Linked DNA regions of Homo sapiens. The protein of the gene in region 3 purifies or fractionates together with the protein of the main gene of each other region. This does not show direct contact. Each region holds a gene or a part of one and is shown on either strand. Other genes may lie near its edges. The genes, in order: ARMC1, DUS2 and DHTKD1.

Region 1 (3,500 bases), on a different chromosome or scaffold from region 3:
AAACATAATTTATTGGAATATTGAGGACAACATATGTTCTTTAAACATTGTGCACACAAATTTTTTCAGTCGTCTTACGTTCATTTTACTTTTCTCAAACTGTAGAGTTGCCGATTTCTAAGTTTTTATGTGATTTAGTTTTAGTTACCTGATTCTTTCTAAAGGTGTTGTAATCCTGGTTATTTCACAAGTGCTATAATATACCTCAGCAGCCTAGAACTAATTCTGCAAACCTTTTCTACAGAATTTAAGATTTTATTCATGTGCATGGCATAGAAGATGAATTCTTCCACTTCCACCATGAGTGAAGAGCCTGACGCTCTATCGGTAGTTAACCAGTTACGGGATCTAGCAGCAGATCCGTTAAACAGAAGAGCCATCGTCCAGGATCAGGGATGTCTGCCTGGCCTTATTTTATTTATGGACCATCCCAACCCTCCAGTCGTCCACTCCGCTTTGCTTGTAAGTTGCCTTTAGTAATTTCAATCTCTGTTCTATTTTTGCAGTTAAGGTGAGAATTTGGAAAAAGTGCTAGATGACAAGGTAAAAAAACGGAAAGAGAGCAATTAGTTGTTTGTATTTATGTAGGTACAAACATATGTATGTGTGGTCTGTGGTCTGTTTACACCAGTGGTAACATGCTACATTGTTTTTATTCTTTATTTTTTTTTTTTTGAGTCATCTAGGCCTGGAGTACACTGTGGCAGGATCTTAGTTCACTGCAATCTCCACCTCCTGGGCTTAAACCATCCCCCCGACCTCAGCCTCCCAAGTAGCTGGGATGATAGGCACACACCACCATGCCAGCCAAATTTTTGATATTTTGTAGAGATAGGGTTTCGCCATGTTGGCCAGGCTCAAACTCCTGAGCTCAAGTGATCCTTCCACTTTGGCCTCCCAAAGTGTTGGAATTACAGCTGTGAGTCACCATGGCCAGCCTTGTTTTTATTCTTTTATACAAATTGTTGCATACTCCATGCATGGAATGTCCTACCACTTCCTTTTCATTTAACAATCTTGAGGATTGGATCATATCATACACAGAGACACTCAAAGAGGCACTTATTTTGTTTTTATTTTATAACAGCTTTTTAAGATGTAAGCACACAGCATCATATAATTCACTCATTTAAAGTATACAATTAAGTGATTTTAGTATATTCACAGAGTTGTGTGTCACCATCACCACAACTTTTTATTTTTATTTATTATAAATAAATTTTTTTTTTTTTTTTTAGTAGAGATAGGATGTAGCTATGTTAACTAGGCTGGTCTCAAACTCCTGGCCTCAAGTGATTCTTCTACCTCGAGCTCTCAAAGTGCTTAGATTACAGATGTGAGCCACTGTGCCCGGCCCACCACAACTTTTTATCTATTGCTTCCCAGACCCCAACACTCCCTGTCCCTAAGCAACTACTAATCTACTTTTTGTATGTCTATATTTGCCTATTCTGGCAAAAATGCCTATATATTTTGCATATAAATAGGGCCAGACGTGGTGGCTCACTCCTGTAATCCTAGCACTTTGGGAGGCCGAGGTGGGTGGATCACCTGAGGTCAGGAGTTTGACACCAGCTTGGCCAACGTAGTGAAACCCTGTCTGTACTAAAAATACAAAACAATTAGCCGGGCGTGGTGGTGGGTGCCTGAAATCCCAGCTACTCAGGAGGCTGAGGCAGGAGAATCCCTTGAACCCAGGAGGCAGAGGTTGCAGTGAGCCAAGATTGTGCCATTGCACTCGAGCCTGGGCAACAAGAGTGAAACTCCGTCTCAAAAAAAAAAAAAAAAAAGTTGTTAAAAAAATTAATGTTTTGGAAATTTTATCTATTGCCCTTTACTTAAGGACTCGTGATGATTCCCCATTTAGTCTAATTTCACAAGTTTGTACAGAAGGCATATAGACTTTTCCTTTTGGAAAAAAATTTCTATTTTGCCTTTACAGAATGAAGTTTAGCAGTCAAAAAAGACATTGGTGTAAGAGAACAGTAGTAACAAATGGGAAAAATGGCACAGTCCCCAGTCTGGGTTCAATTTCAATAAGAAATGCAAGAAGGATGAGAAGAAAGAGGGGGTTGATCTATAGATAGGGACTTGGGGCTAAAGGAAGTAAGTCTTTTTTATTTTTAAATAGACTAGAATATGTCTAAGTTCAGAGGGCAAGGGCTACTAGAATGGGAGAGGTTTGAGGGGAAGGCTCTCATAATTGCAGAAAATAGGAAAGATTTGCTAACTGAGGAGAATGATAAAGTTGTTCAGCAGTGTTGAGGGCTGATTAGTTTGGTAATACTGAATCGATATGATTCAGGCCTGTTGTAGGCTCACAGAGCCAAGTACTTGGATTTGTCTAGAGTTGTTACTTGGCCAGGTTAAGTTGGGCAGAATGATTGTGCAAGGGAGTTTAGGATCTTGGCAGGATTGGTTGAAATGATATACAGTAGATACTAGGCTGAATAGGAAGGGAAGTATAAAGTCATGGAGGGACAGAGCTAAGGAGAGGGATCAGTGAGTGAAAGTTCCCAAGAGGCTGAAGAAAAGATTTTTTTGTTGTTGTTTTTGAGACAGAGTTTTTGCTCTTGCCACCCAGGCTGGAGAGCAATGGCACAATCTTGGCTCACTGCAACCTCCGCCTCCTGGGTTCAAGCGATTCTCCTGCCTCAGCCTTCTGAGTAGCTAGAATTACAGGCCCGCACCATCACATGTGGCTAATTTTTGTATTTTTAGTAGAGACGGTTTTTCACCATGTTGGCCAGGCTAGTCTCGAACTCATGACCTCAGGTGATCTGCCTGTCTTGGCCTCTCAAAGTGCTGAAATTACAGGTGTGAGCCACCATGCCTGGCCATTGGGTGTGTTGTTTTTATGATTTCCTTTTTTCGTCACTGTTAGCTTATTAGTATACACTTTTGTTTTTATTTTAATTTATTTAGTGGTTGCTGTAGGTTTTACAATATGCATCTTTAACTTCTTACAGCCTACCTTTAAATGAATCATACCCTTAACATGTAGTGTAAGAATCACACAAGAGTATATTTCCATTTCTTTCTCCCATCTTTTGTGCTATTTTTGTCATACATTTTACTTCTACATATGTTTAAAAACCTACAGTGTATATATTTTTGCCTTAAACAGTCAATTATCTTTTAAAGAGATTAAAAATTTAAAAATGTCTTTTTTTTTTTTTGAGATGGAGTCTTGCTCTGTCACCTAGGCTGGAGTGCAGTGGCGCAATCTCAGCTCACTGCAACCTCTGCCTCCCGGGTTCAAATGATTCTTCTGCCTCAGCCTCCCTAGCAGCTGAGATTACAGGTGCATGTCAGCATGCCTGGCTAATTTTTGTATTTTTAGTAGAGACAGGGTTTCGCCATGTTGGCCAGGCTGGTCTTGAACTCCTGAGTTCAGGTGATCTGCCCCCCTCAGCTTCCCAAGGTACTGAGATTATAGGCGTGAGCCACCATGCCTAGCAAAAAAAGGTCTTTTATATTTACCTTCATTTTTACATTTC
Region 2 (2,502 bases), on a different chromosome or scaffold from region 3:
TTCCCCTCAGGAGAGAGGCTGCAGGTGGTGGGGGTGACCTTTACAACCTTTGCCACCCAGCCCAGCCTCCCTCCAGTGTCCACGCTTGGGTTCACATTCACTTTCCATCTTCCAGTCCACAGTAATCCCAGGGCTGGGCAGGGGGCACATTCTGATGGCCAGGCCCCGGTGGTGTTTTGGTGTATGTGGTAGAGGAGTTTCTCAGTGGTGGGGCCCTGGGGTCCTGCAGTACCCTGGATGCTGGCTCCGCTAAAGTGTTTGCTCTGATCTGCTTCTTCCTCCCTAGTGAGGCCTTTGGCCTTGGTGCCTTCTATGAGGAGACCACACAGGAGCTGGATGCCCAGCAGGCCAGGCTCTCAGCCAAGACTTCAGAGCAGACAGGGGAGCCAGCTGAAGATACCTCTGGTGTCATTAAGATGGCTGTCAAGTTTGACCGGTAGGTCTCCAGCTTGGCCTCAGCTTGGGCTAGGGCCAGCACCCTTGGGGTCCCACTGGGCCAGCACACTGGCTGCTGTATGTGCTTAATGTCAAACGTAGGGACCACAGGTCTTGTTGGTTTGGAAACTCGTTCTAAATTTTCAGCATCCCATAGAAGGTGCTTTCAGGGGAGATAGTCCCTGAAAGGCTGTCCCAAGGATAACTGAACTCTACTTTTTCCCTGATTTACCGCCTCCCACAACTCAGGGCAGGGGGGACTTGTCTCCTGTTCCTGAAAGTCTGTGCTTTTCCAAGGCCCTGAGGAACTGGCTCCTGGCATGAAGCTCCTCAAACAACAGCAGGACCCTAGCCCTCATTTGGCTCTGCAGCCCCTACCCACACCCAGTGCCCCTCACCAGCTCTGTGGTGCTCTCTCAAGCTGCTTACGCCTCAGATTGTGACTCAGCTTTGAATGGTGCCCTCCTCTGGGATCTGAGCCTTTCTCCAGTCCCCAGGACCAGACAGGAGCCAGTCTTGTCTGGCAGAGGTGTGGAGAGGGGGAGCAGGGTGGTGGGGAATAGCTGTTGGGCAGTCAGATGCCAGGGAGAGTTCCAGTTGGGAAGTTGGAATATGACCCCTCCCACCCTGTCACTGTGTCACCCTGTCACAGGCTGACTCTGAAACCAGATTCCAAGTGTCCATGGCTGCAGCAGATGATCATGACACTTGGCAGGCGGAATCAGGATGGGCGCTGAGCTAGATCCCCGAGACCATTGTCTGGCTACCTCCATTGCCCACCTCCACCCACTCCCTACTAATCTTGTCTTGAGTGGCAAGCTTCCTTCTTGGATGTTGAACATTGTTTTTCCAGTCTGGACCTCAGAGTACTGGGAGTTCATTCCCCCTTCCCTTACAATTTCTTGAGCATGCCAAAATTCATCTTCCCTTTAGGGAGAACCCAGGTCCAAGCTGCTGGTAGGACAAGAATGGGAGCCTAGGGGAGCAAGTACAGAAGCCTTAAGGCAGCAGCTCGGTGTCTCAGTTCCTCTCATTTCTGCAGCTCCTTTCAGGAGCTGAGTAGTGCCCTGGCTGAGGGAGGGAGCGGTGATGGTGGGTGACCCCAACTGCTTCCCTTCCTTTCCCCAGGAGAGCATACCCAGCCCAGATCACCCCTAAGATGTGCCTACTAGAGTGGTGCCGGAGGGAGAAGTTGGCACAGCCTGTGTATGAAACGGTGAGTTCCTGGCTGTGGCCTGCCCTGCAGCCAGTCACAGCACTCCCATGGCTTACACCCTCAACTCTAGATTGCCAGGCTGGAGCCTGGCCTTGACCTCTGTAGGCATGGAGAAGCTGCTGGTGGCCAGGTCAGTTGCTGATAGCCCTCCCCTCTTACAGTGGCCTGTTGTCCAGTTCAGCCAGACATCTCTCTTTTTTTTTTTTTTGAAACAGAGTCTAATTTTTATTTTTTATTTTTTAGAAATGTGGTCTCAGCCGGGCACGGTGGCTCATGCCTGTAATCCCACAACTTTGGGAGGCCGAGGCAGGTGGAACACGAGGTCAGGAGTTCAAGACCAGCCTGGCTAAGATGGTGAAACCCCGTTTTCCTAAAAATACAAAAATTAGCTGGACATGGTGGTGGGCGCCTGTAATCCCAGCTACTTGGGAGGCTGAGGCAGAGAACTGCTTAAACCTGGAGGCAGAGGTTGCAGTTAGCTGAGATCATGCCACTGCACTCCAGCCTGTCTCAAAATAAATAAATAAATAAATAAATGGGGTCTTGCTTTGTTGTCCAGGCAGGCTGGTCTCAAACTCCTGTGCTCAAGTGGTCCTCCTTCCTCAGCCTCCCAAAGTGCTGGGATTATAGGTCATGAGCCTTTTTTAAAAATTTTATTTAATTATTTAATTATTTATTTATTTTTTGAGACGGAGTCTCGCTCTGTTGCCTAGGCTGCAGTGCAGTGGCATGATCTTGGCTCACTGCAACCTCCGCCTCCAGGTTCAAGTGATTCTCCTGTGTCAGCCTCCTGAGTAGCTGGGATTACAGGTGGGTACCACCACACCTGGCTAACTTTTTTGTATTTTCAG
Region 3 (3,734 bases):
CGGCTCACTGTAGCCTCGACTTCCTGGGCTCAAGCGATCCTCCCGCCTCCACCTCCTGAGAACCTGGGACTACAGGCGCTTGCCACTATGCCTGACTAGATGGGGTCTCACAGCGTTACCCAAGCTGGTCTCGCCATCTGCCCGTCTCGGCCTCCCAAAGTTCTGGGATTGCAGGCATGAGCCTCCTCACCTGGCCCCAGGGCGTTAGCTTTAAAATCTATCCTGCTTTCTTCTCTCTTTTATCAGGATTAAATATGATAATATATGTGAATAGACTTTATAGTTGAAAGTATGACATGAATGTAGAGTGACATTTATTGTAACACCCAGGTGTTGATGATTGTAGTTAAAGGATGATAGATGCAACCTGAAAGATTGCAACTTTCAGACTGGAGCAACTTTGGGTTCCATACCTTTTTAGATAAAGGGGGGTGCTGATTGGATAGACAGTGTGGGTCAGTCTTGGAAATAATTGTCAGAATTTACCAAATCATAGAAAAACTCTGTTAATTATTTCTATTTGGATGCAGACAAAAACTTATAAATTTGTTTTCTCTCAGTTGCCTGGAAAAGAGGTTGTTACTATGAGTGCCTTCATTTATTAAATTAATTTATTATATTTAACATTGTTTATTTATTTTGTTTCTGTTTTATAAACTTATTGAGATGAACGTGACATAATATAAAATTGGCTGTCTTAATGCGAACAACTCAGTGGCATTTATTTACCTTCACAAAGTGGTGCAACCATCACTTCTGTCAAGTTCCAAAACATTTTTCCTGAATGCCTTTTTATTTTATTTTTATTTATTTTTAATTTTATTTATTTGGTTTTTGAGACGGAGTTTCACTTTTGTTGCCTAGGCTGGAGTGCAGTGGTGCCATCTCGGCTCACTGCAACCTCTACCACTTAGGTTCAAGCAATTCTCCTGCCTCAGCCTCCTGAGTAGCTGGGATTACAGGCGCCCGCCACCATGCCAAGCTAATTTTTTGTATTTTTAGTAGAGACAGGGTTTCACCACGTTGGCCAGGCTGGTCCCGAACTCCTGACCTCAGGTGATCCACCCACTTTGGCCTCCCAAAATGCTAAGATTGTAGGTGTGAGCCACTGCACCTGTCGAATGCCTTTTTAGAGTGCTGACACTCCACCGCCCTTGACAGTGACTCTCCTTGTCTCTATTAGATTGTTACAGGTCAGACTGATTTTTGTTTCTTCTCTTTCTTGGGCAGAGCTCGAAAGAGCATTCCAGACACATATGCAGAGCACCTCATTGCTGGCGGACTCATGACGCAGGAGGAGGTGTCTGAAATAAAATCCTCCTACTATGCCAAGTTGAATGATCACTTAAATAACATGGCCCACTACAGGCCCCCTGCCCTGAACCTGCAGGCCCACTGGCAGGGCCTGGCTCAGCCAGAAGCGCAAATCACCACCTGGAGTACAGGTGTGCCCCTCGACCTCCTGCGGTTTGTTGGCATGAAGTCTGTAGAGGTGCCAAGAGAGCTGCAGATGCACAGTCACCTGCTGAAGACACATGTTCAGGTGGGCAGCCTCCAAATGGCTGGTTATTGCTTCTCCTTCCTGCTCAGCAAAGGAGCTGACGTTGGTCTGGTGTTTTCAGTTGTCTGATTCATTTGACAAATATTTATTGTGTGTCGTTAGGTTCTAGAAACTGATCCTAGTGTTGTTTTGGTACTGATAGTCAGTTACCTCAGATTTTCTCTTCTTTTCTTTTTCCTCCATGTATTTATTTATTTATGCATGTTCATACATTACATGTACCTGGAATACATGCACACTATAAGAAATACAGAGATACAAGAATGTCTGTTTTTATTTTTCCAACCAGTGAGTAGAAAACACTTTGTTTCAGGTGGCTTAAATAAAAGAAACAAAAGTCAACACACATACCCCAAGGTAGCCCCCTAAACATGCTCATGTTTTACGTATTGTCTTAGGATCACTATAGGATGACAAACCACCCTGGTGGACCTGGGACTTAGGGGTTTTCTGGAATGTGGGACTTTAAGTGCTAAAACAAGGAGAGCAAAGAGTTAAATGTCTTTTTCTTTCTTAAGCTTGGATGAAGGAACTTTGCCCTCTAAATTATTTTATTTTATGTTATTTTTGGATGGAATCTCACTCTGTCACCCAGGCTGGTGTGCAGTGGCGTGATCTCGGCTCACTGCAACCTCCACCTCCCAGGTTCAAACGATTCTCCTGCCTCAGCCTCCTGAGTAGCTGGGATTACAGGCATGTGCCACCATGCCCAGCTAATTTTTGTATTTTTAGTAGAGATGGGTTTTCACCATGTTGGCCAGGTTGGTCTTGAACTCCTGACCTCAATTGATCCATCCACTTTGGCCTCCCAAAGTGCTGGGTTTACAGGTGTGAGCCACCATGCCTAACATGAATTATTTTCAAACACTAACTTGGCCAGGCACGGTGGCTCCTATCTGTAATACCAGTGCTTTGGAAGGCCAAGGTGGAAGGATTGCTTGAGCCTAGAAGTTCAAGACCAGCCTGGGCAACATAGTGGACCTTATCGCTAGTAAAGATTAAAAAATTTGCCTGGCATGGTGGCGCATGCCTGTAGTCTCAGCTCCTCAGGAGGCTGAGGTGGGAGGATTGCTTGAGCCCAGAAGGTCGAGCCTGCAATGAGCTGAGATTGCACCACTGTACTCCAGCCTGGGTGACAGAATAAGATCCTGTTTCTCCAAAAAGAGGAAATTAAAAAAAAAAAACCAACCCACTAACTTTAAGTTTTTATTATAGGTACAGAGACTATTACAACAAACTATTAATATGTACTCATCACTCAGCTTAGGAAATAGGATGTTATAAATACAGTTCCCCACATACCCCTCCTTGATCCATCTCCTCCCACCTCCGCAGAGGTAACCACTAACCTAAGCACGTGTTTGTTTTGCCTGTTTTAAAATTGTATATAGGCCGGGTGTGGTGGCTCACTCCTGTAATCTGAGAACTTTGGGAGGCCAAGCCGGGCAGATTATTTGAGTTCAGGGGTTCAAGACCAGTCTGACCAACATGGCGAAACCCCTTCTCCACTAAAAAGTACAAAAATTAGCTGGGCGTGGTGGTGTGCACCCATAGTCCCAGCTACTTAGGAGGCTGAGGCAGGAGAATCACTTGAACCAGGGAGGCTGAGGTTGCAATCAGCCAAGATCACGCCACTGCACTCTAGCCTGCGTGACAGAGTGAGACTGCCTCAGAAAAAAATAAATAAATAAAAACTGTATATAATTGCTCTCCTTCTCTAATGTATCCTTTTGTACTCTGTTTTTATTCAGCATTGTTTTTGATGCTTAATTTCGTTGCTTTTTTTTTTTTTTTTTTTTTGAGATCAAGTCTTGCTCTGTCGCCCAGGCTGTAGTGTAGTGGAGCCATCTCAGCTCACTGCAACCTCCGCCTCTCAGGTTCCAGTGACTCCCTGCCTCAGCTTCCTGAGTAGCTGGTATCATAGAGACACGCCACCAGGCCTAGCTAATTTTTGTATTTTTAGTAGAGATGGAGTTTCACCATGTTGTCCAGGCTGGTCTTGAACTCCTTACCTCAAGTGATCCACCCGCCTGGGCCTCCCAAAGTGCTGGGATTACAGGCATGAGCCACCATGCCTGGCCTGCATTAAATTTTTTGTACTCATTGTGAAAAAGGAAATGGACTCTTAGACGTTCCTTTTTTTTCTTCCTCTGAATTTTACAGTCCAGAATGG

What was found.
Region 1: the proteins of DHTKD1 (region 3) and ARMC1 fractionate together in Homo sapiens (co-fractionation; one large-scale study listed by BioGRID). This does not show direct contact.
Region 2: the proteins of DHTKD1 (region 3) and DUS2 fractionate together in Homo sapiens (co-fractionation; one large-scale study listed by BioGRID). This does not show direct contact.

Annotation. Positions count from the first base shown.
Region 1 is NC_000008.11:65,624,178-65,627,677, reverse strand, and holds part of ARMC1 (armadillo repeat-containing protein 1), read left to right. Parts: intron 1-244; 5' UTR 245-279; coding exon 280-462; intron 463-3,500.
Region 2 is NC_000016.10:68,075,069-68,077,570, forward strand, and holds part of DUS2 (tRNA-dihydrouridine(20) synthase [NAD(P)+]-like), read left to right. Parts: intron 1-286; coding exon 287-436; intron 437-1,563; coding exon 1,564-1,651; intron 1,652-2,502. UniProt on the Homo sapiens protein: Catalyzes the NADPH-dependent synthesis of dihydrouridine, a modified base found in the D-loop of most tRNAs. Specifically modifies U20 in cytoplasmic tRNAs. Activity depends on the presence of guanosine at position 19 in the tRNA substrate.
Region 3 is NC_000010.11:12,096,454-12,100,187, forward strand, and holds part of DHTKD1 (2-oxoadipate dehydrogenase complex component E1), read left to right. Parts: intron 1-1,230; coding exon 1,231-1,543; intron 1,544-3,724; coding exon 3,725-3,734. UniProt on the Homo sapiens protein: 2-oxoadipate dehydrogenase (E1a) component of the 2-oxoadipate dehydrogenase complex (OADHC). Participates in the first step, rate limiting for the overall conversion of 2-oxoadipate (alpha-ketoadipate) to glutaryl-CoA and CO(2) catalyzed by the whole OADHC.